Linked DNA regions of Homo sapiens: region 2 is linked to region 1. A link means that fine-mapping ties the variant in region 1 to the expression of a gene that starts in the linked region. Tissue or cell type: whole blood. Region 1 holds a variant in brackets; the other region holds the start of a gene. All regions are shown on one strand. Distances are from middle to middle.

Region 1 (8,103 bases):
AGGATACAGGGGATGATGGGCCCCACATAAGGAGTAAACTTGTCTCCAAAGGTGATGGGCAGGTAGTTAAACATCATAATGTAGCCATCTCGGACATGGGGTGCAATGTCCACTTTGCTGGCTGTAGCCACGATTTCTGGCATCAACTTCTCCAACTTCTCCACCCCCAAACCGGCCATGACCTCAGCCAACCCTGCAACAAAGGACAGAATGAGTCCACTGGATCTGAGGGCCCCTTAGAGCATTCCCAGGCTGGCCACTGGACCTGCTCTGGCCTTACCCTGTGCAGCGCCTGAGCGATCCACAGAGCTCTGCTCATAGGTCAGTGTCTCCATCAGCCACGGCAGCAAGTCCTCAAAGCACGACTCCCCCATGCCCTTCACCATGGCCCCAAGGGCCTTTGCAGATACGGTCCGCACCTGTCAGGTAACCGAGAGCAGAGATGGTGTGAGAAGATGAGGCTCAAAACAAGGTAGCCACATGGGAGCAGGAAGGGGCACCGAGGGCCTCTTTCTCTTTACCCAACAGACACAAAAGCAGCTTTGGGGAATTCTCAGGAATCCATTTATGGGGACTGGATGAGGGGCCTGGCCCATCCCCCAGCCTACCTCAGACTCACCTCAGGCACAGGGTCCAAAAGCGATGCTTTCAGGCCAGGCGTCACGCTGGGCAGGTACGGAGCCAAGTCCTGCAACAACACAGGAGGCGGCTCAGGTGAGGCCCGACTCCTGCTTTCTCCAGGCCTGTTCCACTGTGGACCCTGACCTCCCCATTCTGCTGGCAAGGAGTGCTTGGCAGGGGCACCTAGCATGCAAACCTCACTGCCCACGGAACAGGGAGGGCAAGTAAGTCCCCTCTCCGACTGGTTCCTTCAAGGCCCTCTGCAATTGCTCAGGGACTCCTACAAGGGACCCCAGGCCCATCCTCAACAAACAGGAGTTCAATGCTCTTGCACCTCCCACCCTTCTCTTAGGACCAAGGCCTGTCCAGACTCTGGAATCTTTAGCAAATTACTTCTGGTAATTTCCTTTCAGAATTTTATTAACATCTTCCCTTTCTTCATCTCAAAATGTTTATGTCTTTTGATAGAGCATTCAGCTTTAGGGAATAATTTTAAATACAGAAAATGCCTTATGTTCACTGCAGCATCACTTAAAATAGCCAAAAACCTTGGACACTATATGACCAATGATAGAATTATATAAGTTATGGTATATAAACTTGTTGAGATATTATGTAACTATTAAAAATCAGTTTTGTGAATAACTTGTTATAACTTGGGAATAAGTTTTAAGTTTAGGAATGCCATTTTTAAATGTAATTTTAAAAATTAACAGTAATTGGCCGGGCACGGTGGTTCACGCCTATAATTCCAGCACTTTGGGAAGTCGAGGCGGGTGGATCACCTGAGGTCAGGAGTTCGAGACCAGCCTGGCCAACATGGTTTCACCCTGTCTCTACTAAAAATACAAAAATTAGCCAGGCATGGTGGTGGGCGGCTGTAATCCCAGCTACTCGGGAGGCTGAGGCAGGAGAATCGCTTGAACCCAGGCGGCAGAGGTTGCAGTGAGCCGAGACTGATTCAGTGCACTCCAGCCTGGCAACAGAGCAAGACTCCATCTCAAAAAAAAAAAAAAAAAAATTAACAGTAATTATTTTCGTGGTGGGGAACTGTAGATAAAATATTTTGGTTTTCTAATTTTTTTAATTAATTAATTTACTTTTTAAGACAGGGTCTTGCTCTGTCACCCCAGGCTGGAGTGCGGTGGTATTATCACGGCGGTATTATCACGGCTCACTGTATCCTCAACCTCCTGGGCTCAAGCTATCCTCCCATTTCAGCATCCCAAAGTCCTGGGATTACAAGCATTAGCCACCAAGCCTGGTCTGTTTTTCTGGTTTTTTAATTTCCCAAATTTTCTAGGATTAATATAACTTTTATATATTTTTTTTGCCCATAGCCTCAGTAAGCAAAGCAGAGCTATGGCAGACAGTGAGACCACACATGTGAGCTCCTAAGGCAGACAGTGAGATCACACATGCAAGCTCTTGGGAGCAAACAAACAAACAAACAAAATCTCCCAAACCAGGCTCTCCTGACAACAATACAGGAGTATTCTTGTCAAGAGCAAGTAGTCAAAGTGGCAAGCACTTCAACACTCTTGAGAGGTCAAAAGAGAAGACAGGCCTTTCTGGGCCTCAGCTGAGAACTAAGAAGGACTTGAACCACTGCGCTAAGATGCCCAGAGAGCCCGGATTTCCACCACAAAATGGCTCATTTCTCCCCATAAAAATAATTAGGGACTAACGTCCATAACTTTCCATGTCTAATGTGGGGACTCTGCACCTCTGACTCTGCACTCAAACATCTTCTGGTCTATCCCACACTAGCCTCAGCTGGGCCGCTACCTTCTGGTCTGTCAGGGAGTACATGTTGCCAATAATCTGGGCTGCCATCTTCCGCGTGTCCGTGGAACGGTCCTGGAAGGCTCTCTGGACAATGGGCATGATGAGGGCCAGGGATGGGGCATCAATGAAGTGGACAAACTTGGTGTCCAGCAGGGTCTGCAAGCACTTCTGGGTCTTCCTGGAGGGATCCGTCAGGGCATCCAGGAGGACTGGAGCAATGGCTGCACATCCAAAGAGAAGAGAGCTGGATGATATACATCTATGCAGCTGCAAGGCCCCTGGGCCCCCAGAACTAGAATGGATCAGAAGAGAAGGGAGTCTGGCACACCTCCTCCCTGAAACCCCACAAGTCACCAGCTGGGGAAGACAGGAAACCCACAAAGAGCAATCCTTGTTTCACTCCAACTCCTGACCTCAGGTGATCCGCCCGCCTCAGCCTCCCAAAGCGCTGGATTACAGGCATGAGCCACAGAAATAAAATTTTTGAAAAGCATGTATCCTTAGTAAATTTCTGGTTTGCCTATCGGTAATGGAGAAGTGTGTTGAAATCTCCCACTATGATATAATGTATTTGTTAACTTTTCCCTATAGCTTTATAAATTTTGTTTTATGTATTTTGAGGTTATTCCACTTTCCAGACTGAAGTACTGACTGGGCACTGGCAGCTGAAGCTTAGAATTTAACAAGTGACATGCTGGTCAAGGTGGCTGGCTGGGTTTTGTTCCTAGCGATCGACCTCTTCCCAGTACTTGAGAAAGAACCACATCCAGAGTAGTCAGGTTAATCCTAACCCTTCCTTAACCCTCCCCTCTATCAAAGGCCTCCTGGAATGAGATGGAATAGCAAGTTTTCACAGGTCCTAACATTTTGAATGGTGCTGATGTGGTCCAGATAATGTCATTCAGTTCTGTTGACCTCATGCTCAGCTTAGTGCACAGGGATCTCTTGGAGTCAAACTGCTCCTGAGCCAATGACTCAGTGTCCCTATTTCACTGTGAACATATTTGTCCTCGGAGGCAAAGATCTTAGCTGAATGGGTGCAAGTTCCCTGCAGTGTCCAAAGGCTGCGGCGTTGGTGGGAGGTCAGGGCAAGCACCCTCACGGGAAAGGCCTACCCAGGATCTCCGGGTTCCTGATAACGGAGCCGATCTGCCTGAGCGCCTGCTGTCCAGCCTTCTGGACTTTGACATGGGAGTCGGTCAGCACCTCCGTAAGCTTGGGCACAATGTTGGGTAGACAGGATGACAGCTGCTTAGGAGCACAGTACGCCATTGCCCCAAGAAGCTCCACTGACCCTGTGGATAGCAGACACAAGCCCAGTACTGAATCACTGAGCAAAGGCCAGCAACTCACCTGTGCTGGCTACATGAGCAAGGGACATCTACCCTGGCCCCTGCAGACGGTGCTCAAGCAGTCACTGGGAGGAGGGGAGAGGGGGCTGGCTCTAGCAGAGGGGTCGAAAAAGCTCTTGTGGCCTGCTGAACAGTGGGATCCCAGGTGAGAGGCAGGGCAGTATGGGAGAAAGAGACCAGGATAGGTAAGACCTGGTTTAATCCTTACAGTGAGATCCAAGGCCAATTCACTGAATTTCTCTGAACTGTTTCTTCATCCACAAATGAGGAAACTGATTTAGATTTGTGTTGTTTCAAACTACAGGGTGAAGCCTGAAGGACTGAGAAGGAGGTTGAGTGGGAGGGCCTTAGATGGTGATCCTCCCCCAACTAGAGCAGCTCTACTTTTATCTGTTTGCTTATTAGGGTGCCAGACATTTTATTTATTTATTTTTGAGACAGGGTCTCACGCTGCTGCCCAGGTTGGAGTGTGGTGGCAAGATTATAGCTCGCTGCAGCCCCAAACTCCAGGGCTCAAGTGATCCTTCCACTTCAGCCTCCTGAGTAGCTGGGACTACAGGCATGCACCACCACACTTGGCCTATTTTTTTTTTTTTTGGTAGAGGTAGGGTCTTGCTATATTGCCCAGGCTGGTCTAAATTCCTGCCCTCAAGAGATTCTCCTGCCTAAGGTTATTTTCAAAAAGAGCTTTCC[T/TG]GGGGGGGGAAAACTTTAAAGCCAAAGAGGAGCTTTAGAGCTTTAGGATATCCTGACTTAGGGTTGTGGCTCTTGTCAGAGACCTGTTTCTTGGCATGAAAGCACATAAACTATAGAAAGATCCAACTGCCAGAGGGAGAGCTGGCCAGGCGTGGTGACTCACACCTGCAATCCCAGTGCTTTGGGAGGCCAAGGCAGGAGGGTCACTTGAACCCAGGAATTCAAGGCCAGTCTGGGCAACATAGCGAGACTCCATCATTACAAAAAAAAATACAAAAATTAGCCAGGTGTAGTGGCATGCTCCTGTGAGAATGGTTTGAGCCCCAAAGGTAAAGACCAGCCTGGGTGATAGAGCAAGACTCCATCTCAAATTTTTAAAAAGGCAGAGTCTTAACCCTATCCCTGGTCTGGGGAGCTCACAGGACAAGAGCTGTGGCTACCCAGGATCCTTGCTGAGGCTGGTTTTCATAACAGGAAGCTGGGAAGAGAGGCAGAGCGAGTGGTCTTACCAGCTTTGGTCCGCCACGATTCCTCCTCCAGGGCAGCCAGTAAGGAGGGGAGCACCAGCTTCACCCCGTGAGCACTCAAGTTGCTCATCACAGCCTTGGCACAGTCATCTGCAGCCTCAAGGGGGGAGAAAACACATTCAGGGGCCTCCTCACCCAAGCAAGGGGCAAGGCCTGACACCAGTCCTAGCGTTCCTCCTATAACCAACGCTTACTGGGGTTCTATTATGTCAGACCCTGTGCCAAGGCCTGCAGACACAGCTGGGAACACATCTCATAAAGTTTCCATGCTGTTCTCCCGAGCAGTCCGGGGACTTACCTCACGCACATACTGGTTTCCATCCCCAAAGCACAGGAGCAGATGGGGCAGCACGTGAACCACATACGGCTCAAAAAGTTTCCCCAGCATGGTGCAGAGCATCTCGAAGGCAAAGAGGGCTCCTAGGGGAAAAGAAGGTGGGACGGCTGGGAAGAGAATGTCCCCTGGGGGTAGCCACAGAGAACAGAAGGGACAGCAACCTCCCTGCCACCTCCCACCCCTCTGGAAACACTCAGAAACAGCTGTGGAACTAGTAGATGCCCCATGAGGAGGCAGCACCCTCTGCCTCAGCTCAAGAAGCCCCAGCAAAGGAATGTGGCTGAGCGAAAGGGAGGACAGCACAGGGGAGCCACCTTCACTTCTTGGCACTAACAGTTAAAAAAGCCAAACCTTGGCCGGGCGCGGTGGCTCACACCCATAATCCCAACACTTTGGGAGGCTGAGGCAGGCAGATCACGAGGTCAGGAAATAGAGACCATCTTGGCCAACATGGTGAAACCCTGTCTCTACTAAAAATACAAAAATTAGCTGGGTATGGTGGTGGGCACCTGTAACCCCAGCTACTAGGGTGGCTGAGGTAGGAGAATTGCTTGAACCCAGGAGGTGAAGATTGCAGTGAGCCGAGATTGTGCCTGGAGACAGAGTGGGACTCCATCTCAAAAAAAAAAGAAAGAAAGAAAGAAAGAAAAGCCAAACCTCTCTCAGCTAAGGGTGTTGCTGAGTTAGAAATTTGTGGCCGGGCGCGGTGGTTCATGCCTGTAATCCCAGCACTTTGGGAGGCTGAGGCGGACAGATCACGAGGTCAGGAGATCGAGACCATCCTGGCTAACACGGTGAAACCCCGCCTCTACTAAAAATACAAAAAATTAGCCGGGCGTGGTGGCGGGCGCCTGTGGTCCCAGCTACTTGGGAGGCTAAGGCAGGAGAATGGCATGAACCCAGGAGGCTGAGCTTGCAGTGAGCCAAGATCACGCCACTGCACTCTAGCCTGGGCGACAGAGCGAGACTCCGTCTCAAAAAAAAAAAACAGAAAAGAAAAAAAAATTTGCAAGTCCAAGGAAAGCAGCAAGGACGCAGCTGGACTGGGTCGCACACAGCGGGGCCCTCTGTAGTACACGCACAAGCAACGGCCTCCACCTGGGGCGCCACGGTCAGATTCCTTCCTCTGGCAACCTGGGGACCAACTTCCCATGCTGGGCAGCCCCAAGCTCAGAGATGCTCACCCTCTCGCCGGCGGAAGTTCTTCTTATCTTGGATGGCATCAGTCAGTGCCGCCATCATCTCCTGTTGCTTCAGCGAGAGGATGCCCAGGCCCTTCACCAGGCCCGCCAGGCCATAGGCGGCCCCTTTGCGCTCTGCGTACTTGTCTGACTCCAGCAGCTGCTGCATAAGCCTCTGGATCATCCCTCCAGCATCCTCCTTGATGGCTGGCACAAGGGGTGGCAAGCAGCTGGCTACGGACTCCTGGACCTGGGGAAGGGCCCACCTGTCAATGCTGTGGCTCCGCTGCAGCCGTTTCATGGTTGGTGGGGGGTCTGACCATTCTACACAGCACCCACCACTAGATGTCCCAAGCCCCATCTCAGCCACTGCCTGCGGATGTCACAGGGCACCAGAGAAGCAAACAGGTATACACAGTGTTGTATACCTCTGAGGGTGCACACTACAATCTGCTGACGACAAAAGCTTTGGCCCATATGGTGCCATTTCTGGTCTAAATGGAAAACCTAGGCCTGGGCAGTGGGGCAGGGGACCAAGGAAGGGACTCTAAAGACTAAATCCACTCAGAAAGAAAGCTTCCAGAGAAGTGTGCTGCTTTGCCTCCATAAAAACAGCCCGTGTCTCTGTTTCCAAACTTGTCAAAATCACAGAGAAATTGGGCAGGGCCTTATAGGACCAGGCACAAATTGAGTGGAACCAAAAGACACTCAATCCTGCCTCCCAGCCGCAGCTCACTAAGCCCAGCTTGGGAGCAGCAACCCCGAGGCCATGCTGGCAGGTGCCCAGGTGCGACTCTTTTGCTGCTTAGGCTTTCTGACACCATATTTGACCACAATTTTGGAAACTGGTTTTCAACTGTGCATTTTTTTGGTAAAGTTTTTTGTTGTTTTTTGTTTTTGTTTTTAGAAATAGGGTCTTACTCTGTCACCCAGGCTACAGTGCAGTGGCACAATCATAATTCACTATAACCTTGAATTCCTGGACTCAAGCAATCCTATTGCCTCGGTCTCCTGAGTAGCTAGGAACACAGGCATGGCCTCCACCTCTGGCTAATTTTTAAAGTTTTTGTAGAGACAGGATCTCACTATGTTGCCCAGGCTGGTCTCGAACTACTGGCCTTAAGCAATCCTCCCACCTCAGCCTCCTAAAGCACTGGGATTATAGGCATGAGCCACCACGCCCAGCCCAACTGTTCACTTTATGAAGACACTCTAAGTGGTCCAAAATGCAAACCACACACACACGCGCACACACACACACACACACACAAAATATATATATATAAATATATATATATTTATATATATATACATGCGTGTTTTTCAAAACAAAGAAAAAGAAATTTATTTGCACTGTAGCTTAGAGGCTACATTAAAACGCACCTGTAGCCTCCTAAAGCACTGGGATTATAGGCATGAGCCACCACGCCCAGCCCAACTGTTCACTTTATGAAGACACTCTAAGTGGTCCAAAATGCAAACCACACACACACGCGCACACACACACACACACACACAAAATATATATATATAAATATATATATATTTATATATACATACATGCGTGTTTTTCAAAACAAAGAAAAAGAAATTTATTTGCACTG
Region 2 (8,103 bases), 52 kb after region 1:
ATCCACCAGGTGCCTATCTCAGCTGACACTAAACCTACTCCAAGTATGCAGCAGCCATAGAAACAGTAATTCTAGTGTAATAGTTACAACTGTGTCTAGAAAACTGTATAGGATGTTTGATTGGTAGCTTCATTTAGATACCCAAACATCAACACCTAAATACAAAGCTCTGGTTTTACCATGGCTTTCGTTTCTAGCATATGGCACTATAAACCTCAAAATTAAGGGCCAGGCACATGGTGGCTCAAGCCTGTAATCCTAGCACTTTGGGAGGCTGAGGCAGGATTCCTTGAGGCCAGGAATTTGAGACCAGCTTGTGCAATATCTCTACAAAAAAAAAATTTAAAAATTAGTAGCTGAGTGTCATGGTGTGTGCCTGTAGTCCCAGCTACTTGGGAGGCTGAGATACGAGGATCCCTTGATCCCAGGAGTTCAAGGGTGCAGTGAGTTATGATTACACCACCACACTCCAGCCTGGGCAACAGCCAGACCCTGTGTCAAAAAGGAAAAAAAATTACAAAATTAAGAGTCCAGAGACTTTTTAAAGAAGTAAGCCTTTATTTCCTTGTTTTGCAAATAAAACTGGCTAAGTTGGTTGCTTTTTGGTGATTAGTCAAAGAGACCAAATCCCATATCCTCGTCCGACTCCTCCGACTCTTCCTTGGCTTCAACCTTAGCTGGGGCTGCAGCAGCAGCAGGAGCAGCTGTGGTGGCAGCAGCCACAGGGGCAGCAGCCACAAAGGCAGATGGATCAGCCAAGAAGGCCTTGACCTGAAAGGAGGGGGGAAGTGGTCAAAATGGTCATCCACACTCCTCTATTACCCACCACCCTCCTGCCTTGGTAGAGTTTAAGGACCAACAATATCAAAGTCCGTGTGAAGCCTTTCCTGTCAGAAGCAGCCCAAGCAGGACAGCTTGGGTATGGCCTAGTGAGGCAGGGTTCCTAAGGCCCAGCTCTTGCCCATTAACCCCCTCTTTGGGTCTCTTGTCATTTCTCAAGTGAGAAACGCCTTCCCTGCCTCCCAACCTCTCAAATATCCCCTCACAAAATTATCTGCTATATAAAATACAACTATAAAAGCAGTAAGGTAGAAGGCCACATCACCCTGCTAATTTGTCACAGTCAGGCCCACTGTGGTCCTGGTGGGATCCTTTTACCTTTTCAGCAAGTGGGAAGGTGTAATCCGTCTCCACAGACAAGGCCAGGACTCGTTTGTACCCGTTGATGATAGAATGGGGTACTGATGCAACAGTTGGGTAGCCAATCTGCAGACAGACACTGGCAACATTGCGGACACCCTGGGGGAGGGAAGATTTCATTTTACGTGAGATTCCCTACAGGAAAGGAAGTCCAAGTAAGGGTGAATAAAGAGAACCCTTAGCAGACAATAATTGCCAGGTTGGCAGCTCAGTCTCAAGAGAGGCCATTTCATCTCATACCAAATGCTCCTGGCAGAGCAATTCAGCCCCATCAAATAAATTTTGCCCTTATTCCAAATCCAGGTCTTCTGTATCCATTGTTGATGGCATTTACTTCCAAAGCCCCTACCACAACAGTGAAAAGCATAAACGACTAACGTAGCCATTGAGTTCCATGAACGAAAAATGTTCAACGATTTCCAGATGTGAACTTCATTCACTTGTCAAACTTTCAACAAATGAAGCTACCTAAGAGTAGCTAATAATATCTAATTATATACATTAATTTCAATTTTTCATTTGTCCAAGAAATGACATTTTCTATCACTATTATTCATTATTTAAAGGGCATTATTTTTTTTGTGAGACAGAGTCTCACTCTGTCACTCAGGCCGGAGTGCAGTGGCACCATGTCAGCTCACCGCAACCTCCACCTCTTAAAAGGCTTTTGATGGCAAAATGTGAGTCTCAATGCAGGCCCTAGAATAACAGCCCCAGCACTGTACATCCATTAATTCATTAAATCCTTTGGCCAGGCGTGGTGGCTCATGCCTGTAATCCCAGCACTTTGGGAGGCCGAGTTGGGCGGATCACGAGGTCAGGAGATCGACACCATCCTGGCTAACGCGGTGAAACCTAAAAATACAAAAAAATTAGCCGGGCGTAGTGGCGGGTGCCTGTAGTCCCAGCTACTCAGGAGGCTGAGGCAGGAGAATGGTGTGAACCCGGAGGCGGAGCTTGCAGTGAGCCGGGAGATTGTGCCACTGCACTCCAGCCTGGGCGACACAGCAAGACTCTGTCTCCAAAAAAAAAAAAAAAAAATCCTTCAACAATCTTATGTTGTTACTGACATTTTACAGATGAGGTAGGTAGACAGATGAAAACACAGTCCTTGGTTACAGGGACTCAGTCTGAACCTTGTCATGCTCTCAACCATCAGTGTAAGAGGGGGCAAGGCTGACAGCATATACCTCCAGGAAGCGAGAATGCAGAGTTTCCTCTGTGATATCAAGCACTTCAGGGTTGTAGATGCTGCCATTGTCGAACACCTGCTGGATGACCAGCCCAAAGGAGAAGGGGGAGATGTTGAGCATGTTCAGCAGCGTGGCTTCGCTGGCTCCCACTTTGTCTCCAGTCTTGATCAGCTGCACATCACTCTGAACCAGATAATAGTGGGGCAGTAAACACCTGTTGGACAACCAGCAGATCCATGGCCACTAAAAGCAGCTCCCCATTTGCCTGGTTAGCACAGGCAAACCAGGTCCACTCACCAGGATTTCAATGGTGCCCCTGGAGATTTTAGTGGTGATACCTAAAGCCTGGAAAAAGGAGGTCTTCTCGGGCCCGAGACCAGTGTTCTGGGCTGGCACAGTGACTTCACATGGGGCAATGGCACCAGCACGGGCAGCAGCTGGCACCTGACAAAGACAACAAACAGTGAGAAAAGCCTCTCCACTCACACAACCTGAGAATGGTCCATTTTGCTTTAAGGAGCAACAACAAAGTCTCTTTAGCCAACCCAATTGTCCCCTTACCTTATTGGCCAGCAACATGTCCCTGATCTCAGTGAGGTCCTCCTTGGTGAACACAAAGCCCACATTCCCCCGGATATGAGGCAGCAGTCTGCAAAGAGAAGTTTATGGGAGACAATCACCTTTCAGCACCATTCTCCAGGAAGAGGGAGACGGGCACTGGGGAGAAAGGACAAAACTGCCAGGGGAACTGACTTCTCCAGAGCTGGGTTGTTTTCCAGGTGCCCTCGGATGGCCTTGCGCATCATGGTGTTCTTGCCCATCAGCACCACAGCCTTCCCGCGAAGGGACATGCGGATCTGCTGCATCTGCTTGGAGCCCACATTGTCTGCTCCCACAATGAAACATTTCGGATAATCATCCAATAGTTGCTACAAAAAACAAGCCAGAGGAGCCAAGTTTAACAGGAAGAGAGAGGGAAAAAATGCCAGAAGAAACTGAACCCCACAATTTGTTTCCATCCCACTCCCTTTCTTCTAAGCTTTTGAAGTCAGAGGGAGATTGGGAGCTACGTTGTAACACTGCCAAACTGGATGATTGGCTAGCTGGGTATGAACGCTGAAAATTAGGTTTCTACATTCAATCAAGGAGTTTTTTCTTTTTTTACTTAGTTTTTAATTTTTCCCAATTACCAGGCATGCTTCTGATTCACTAAAATGGTTAACAGGATAAAAAAGGAATGTTCCAAGTAAGTTGGTCAAGAGGAGGGCTAGATTCACAGCATTAAAAGCACCACGTTAAGCAAATATAGCAACATTATTATTTGTAAAAACAATCTAGGCGTGTTTATCCGGATTGTTACACAATTCCTTTGGGTTTTGTGTCTGAAAACCTTCTAAGTGTGGGAAAATGTAATACAAGCTATGCTCTACAATGCTGCCTAATTGCTTAAGCGCAGTACAGTCAGCATTTCTGGGCAAGGGAGACCCACCTCAAAGGCCATCCAAAAGTCATTGGACACTTAAGTTTCTTGGCTGACAGGTCCTAAATATGCAACAGCTTGCTTCCTTACAATGAGTCATTCCTGACCTCAGACCTTCTCAAAAATGGAGTAAAACTGTAATGTGCGGCCGGGCGCGGTGGCTCACACCTGTAATCCTAGCACTTAGGGAGGCCGAGGAAGGTGGATCATGAAGTCAAGAGATCGAGACCATCCTGGCCAACATGGTGAATCCCTGTCTCTATTGAAAATACAAAAATTAGCTGGGTGTGGTGTCGCGCCCCTGTAATCCCAGCTACTCGGGAGGCTGAAGCAGGAGAATCGCTTGAACCTGGGAAGCGGAGGTTGCAGTAAGCCAAGATCAAGCCACTGCACTCCAGCCTGGACAACAGAGCGAGACTCCGTTTAAAAAAAAAAAAGTATAAAGCGCGCTCTTTTAGAAGCCAGACAGACCTGGATACGAATGCTGTCATCTTAGGACCCACTTAACTTGCCTGAGCCCGTTTATCTGCAACAGAAGGGACCTATCTCAGGAAATTGTTAACTAAACAGTATTTTCCCAAAAATGGCCTAATTCAGTAGCCGGTGTGAGTAGACCCTCAGCACATAGCAGCTGACTGTCCCTATTTGCGCTGGGGCAACATGAAGAGCAGAGGCGACCCACCCTGCACTTACGATGATCTTAAGGAAGTAGTTGGACTTCCAGGTCGCCCTGTCTTCCCTGGGCATCACGGCGGTGCGTCAGGGATTGCCACGCAGGGTTTAAAGACGATGTCACTGAGGAGAGACAGGGAGCTCAGGCCTGGTCACGCCGACACCCATCCCGCGGTCCCGGGCCTAAGAGGAGCAGGACACGCGCAATCGCCCGCCGGCCCTGCCTAGGGCAGCGGCCGTCATCTCGGGGCGTGCAAGCCGCCACCGAGGCCCCAGGCGGAACAGAATAGGACTCCATGTTCCCAAAGGCCCCCAAAGACCCCTCCATGCTTCCCGCCGGCGACCCCTGGCGCCCATCTAACTAGCACACGAACCTTCCACGAGGACGCCTGGCGAGAGAAGGGCCTCGCGCCCGCGCGTGCCTTTTATAATGCGAACAAAGTAGCCAATCAGAAACCGCGGATAGCGCTCCTGTCTATTGGCTGCGCCATCGCCCGTCAGACAAAGCTGAACGAATACAGGCAACCATTGGATAATATCGCTGCCACTCCAGCCAACGGAAAGCCGCCTTTAAGTAGGGTCGCGAAGGAAGGCGCTGCCTCGCGTTGGAGGAGCTTGCTCTGAGCTGCTGCCACCTGCTGGGCTGGAGCTGGAGCTGGAGCTGCGAATTCGGAGTCCCGGTTCCCTGTGCCACCTGGCGAGCTCAGCAAACTAAAAGGTATGACGTGGAGCTGAGACATAATTGCACATGCTTAGAAACAGAATGGTTTCTCTTTTTTTTTTTTTTTTTGAGACGGAGTGTCGCTCTGTCGCCCAGGCTGGAGCGCAGTGGCGCCATCTCGGCTGACTGCAAGCTCCGCCTCCCGGGTTCACGCCATTCTCCTGCCTCAGCCTCCGGAGTAGCTGGGACTACAGGCGCCCGCCACCGTGCTCGGCTAATTTTTTTTTTGTATTTTTAGTAGAGACGGGGTTTCATCATGTTCTCCAGGATGGTCTCGATCTCCTGACCTCGTGATCTGCCCGCCTCGGCCTCCCAAAGTGCTGGGATTACAGGCGTGACCCGCCGCGCCCGGCCTCAGAATGGTCTCTCGTCTTCTCTAGTTTTTCCGCCTACCAAAACAGAGGGATCCTTTAAAACCTGGCCGGGCGCGGTGGCTCACGCCTATACTCCCAGCACTTCGGGAGGACGAGGCGGGTGGATCACCTGAGGTCAGGAGTTCGAGACTAGCCTGGCCAACATGGCAAAACCCCGTCTCTACTAAAAATACAAAAATTAGCCAGGTGGGGTGGCGCATGCCCGTAATCCCAGCTACTCAGGAGGCCGAGGCAGAAGAATCGCTTGAACCCGGGAGCTGTGAGCTCTGCAGTGAGCTAAGATCACACCATTGCACTCTAGCCTGGGTGACAGAGAGGGACTCCATCTCAAAAAAAAAAAAAAAAAAAAAAAAACCTAAGTCAGCTCATCTCCTTATCTGCTTAAAACTTTCCGTTTCCTACAGAGTAAAAATCTAAAACCTAAAGTACCTACAAGGCCCTTACCTATCTGTCCCTCACGCCCACTCTGATCATCTCAGATGTTTTCCTCCTCACTTACTTGCTTTCTACCCAGATGATGCTCTGCTGCTTTTCCAGAGCAGGCTTTACTTGGGGGCTTTTGCATTAGCCATTCCCTCTTCCTAGAAAACTAGCCAACAAACATCCATAGAATAATTCACCTCCATCAAATCTTTTTTTTTTTTTTTTTTTTTTTTTTTTTTTTTTGAGAAGCAGTCTCACTCCGTTGCCCAGGCTAGAGTGTAGTGGAGCAATCTCAGTTCATTGCAGACTTGACCTCCCAGGCTGAAGTGATCCTCCCACCTCAGCCTCCCAAGTAGCTAGGACTACAGGCACACACCACCACGCCAAGCTAATTTTTTGTACTTTTTGTATAGATGGGGTCTTGCCATGTTGCCTAGGCTGATGTCAAACTTCTGGGCTCAAGCAATCCTCCCACCCTGGCCTCCTAAATTGCTGGGATTACAAGAATGAGACACCTTGCCCAACCCTGAGATCTCTTTTTTTTTTTTTTTTTCACTGAAACCTATGGAATTATGTATTAAATGATCCCCAAAGAATCAGCTATTTCAAAATTAAAAATTATTACAAAGAGCTTCATACATCATGTTATATCCTATATCACACACCATAAAACTGTCAGAAGTAGGCCGGGTGCGGGGGCTCATGCCTGTAATCCCAGCACTTTGGGAGGCTGAGGTGGGCAGATCACGAGGTCAGGAGATCCAGACCATCCTGGCTAACACAGTGAAACCCCGTCTCTACTAAAAAATACCAAAAGTTAGCCAGGAGTGGTGGCGGGCTCCTGTAATTCCAGCTACTTGGGAGGCTGAGGCAGGAGAATTGCTTGAGCCCAGGAGGCAGAGGTTGCAGTGAGCTGAGATTGCGCCACTGTACTCCAGCCTAGGTGACAGAGCAAGATTCCGTCTCAAAAAAAAAAAAAAAAGTTAGAAGTAGCTCGATTTCACGTTACTGTATTTCTTTTTCTTTTCTTTTTTCTTTTCTTTTCTTTTTTTTTTTTTTTTTTTGAGACAGAATTTCACTCTTGTTGCCCAGGGTAGAGTGCAATGGCGTAATCTCGGCTCACCACAACCTCCACCTCCCGGGTTCAAGTGATTCTCCTGCCACAGCCTCCTGAGTAGCTGGGATTATAGGCATGTGCCACCATGCCCGGCTAATTTTGTATTTTTAGTAGATACGGGGTTTTTCCATTTTGGTCATGCTGGTCTCGAACTCCTGACCTCAGGTGATCCACCCAGCTCAGCCTCCCAAAGTGCTGGGATTACAGGCGTGAGCCACTGTGCCTGGCCTGGGGTCTCTTTTATTTGTCTTCTTGGCTATCTGTGTTCCATGGGAAGGATGGAAAATAACATGAATGAGATTTAAATGCTGTTTTGACAGGTTATTAAGATTCCAATCACTCCAGGTGCGGTGGCTCACGCCTGTAATCCCAGCACTTTGGGAGGCTGAGGTGGGCGGATCACGAGGTCAGGAGATCGAAACCATCCTGTCTAACACAGTGAAACCCCATCTCTACTAAAAATATAAAAAACTAGCCGGGCGTGGTGGCATGTGCCTGTAATCCCAGCTACTTGGGAGGCTGAGGCAGGAGAATGGGGTGAACCCGGGAGGCGGAGCTTGCAGTGAGCCGAGATTGTGCCCCTGCACTCCAGCCTGGGTGACAGAGAGAGACTCTGTCTCAAAAAAAAAAAAAAAAAAAAAAAGATTCCAATCACAATCTGCCTACTCTCCCTGATCGAGCGAAGTCCAGAAAGGTGGCAGAATGTCTCTAAAGCAGCTACACACACACACACACACACACACACACACACACACCCCAAAAAATGCCAGAAAAGATGGAAGAGTAAGAAAATCAGGCCAACATGAATAATTTGGTAAAGTGGTGGGCGGGGCGGGGGGTGGTGGCGGTAGCAGGTTTAAAACCAAGACACTTGCATGGCAGGGTATATTGGTGCAGCTGACTGGCATAAAATTCCCTGAACA

Evidence for each region. PIP is the estimated chance that this variant, and not a neighbour inherited with it, causes the effect.
Region 2: it holds the start of RPLP0, and the variant in region 1 is fine-mapped to the expression of RPLP0 in whole blood (INTERVAL, PIP 0.96).

The regions. Positions count from the first base shown.
Region 1 is chr12:120,144,643-120,152,745 of GRCh38, forward strand. GCN1 (GCN1 activator of EIF2AK4) reads right to left here. Exons shown (of 58, transcript NM_006836.2): 34 at 6,503-6,749; 35 at 5,280-5,401; 36 at 4,964-5,078; 37 at 3,525-3,704; 38 at 2,410-2,630; 39 at 620-688; 40 at 281-419; 41 at 1-193. Among named protein-coding and RNA genes, the nearest start is that of MIR4498, 6.8 kb to the right of the region's middle. The variant T/TG (reference allele first, on the strand shown) is at 4,455.
Region 2 is chr12:120,196,164-120,204,266 of GRCh38, forward strand. It overlaps RPLP0 (ribosomal protein lateral stalk subunit P0), which reads right to left and starts at 4,948. Exons shown (of 8, transcript NM_001002.4): 1 at 4,920-4,948; 2 at 4,567-4,668; 3 at 3,147-3,322; 4 at 2,955-3,042; 5 at 2,691-2,837; 6 at 2,391-2,576; 7 at 1,159-1,299; 8 at 536-771. The coding sequence starts at 4,620. The coding sequence ends at 610. PXN-AS1 (PXN antisense RNA 1) reads left to right here and starts at 5,128. Exons shown (of 4, transcript NR_038924.1): 1 at 5,128-5,263. RefSeq lists enhancers at 2,033-2,532, 2,652-3,593, 4,634-4,703, 5,104-5,463.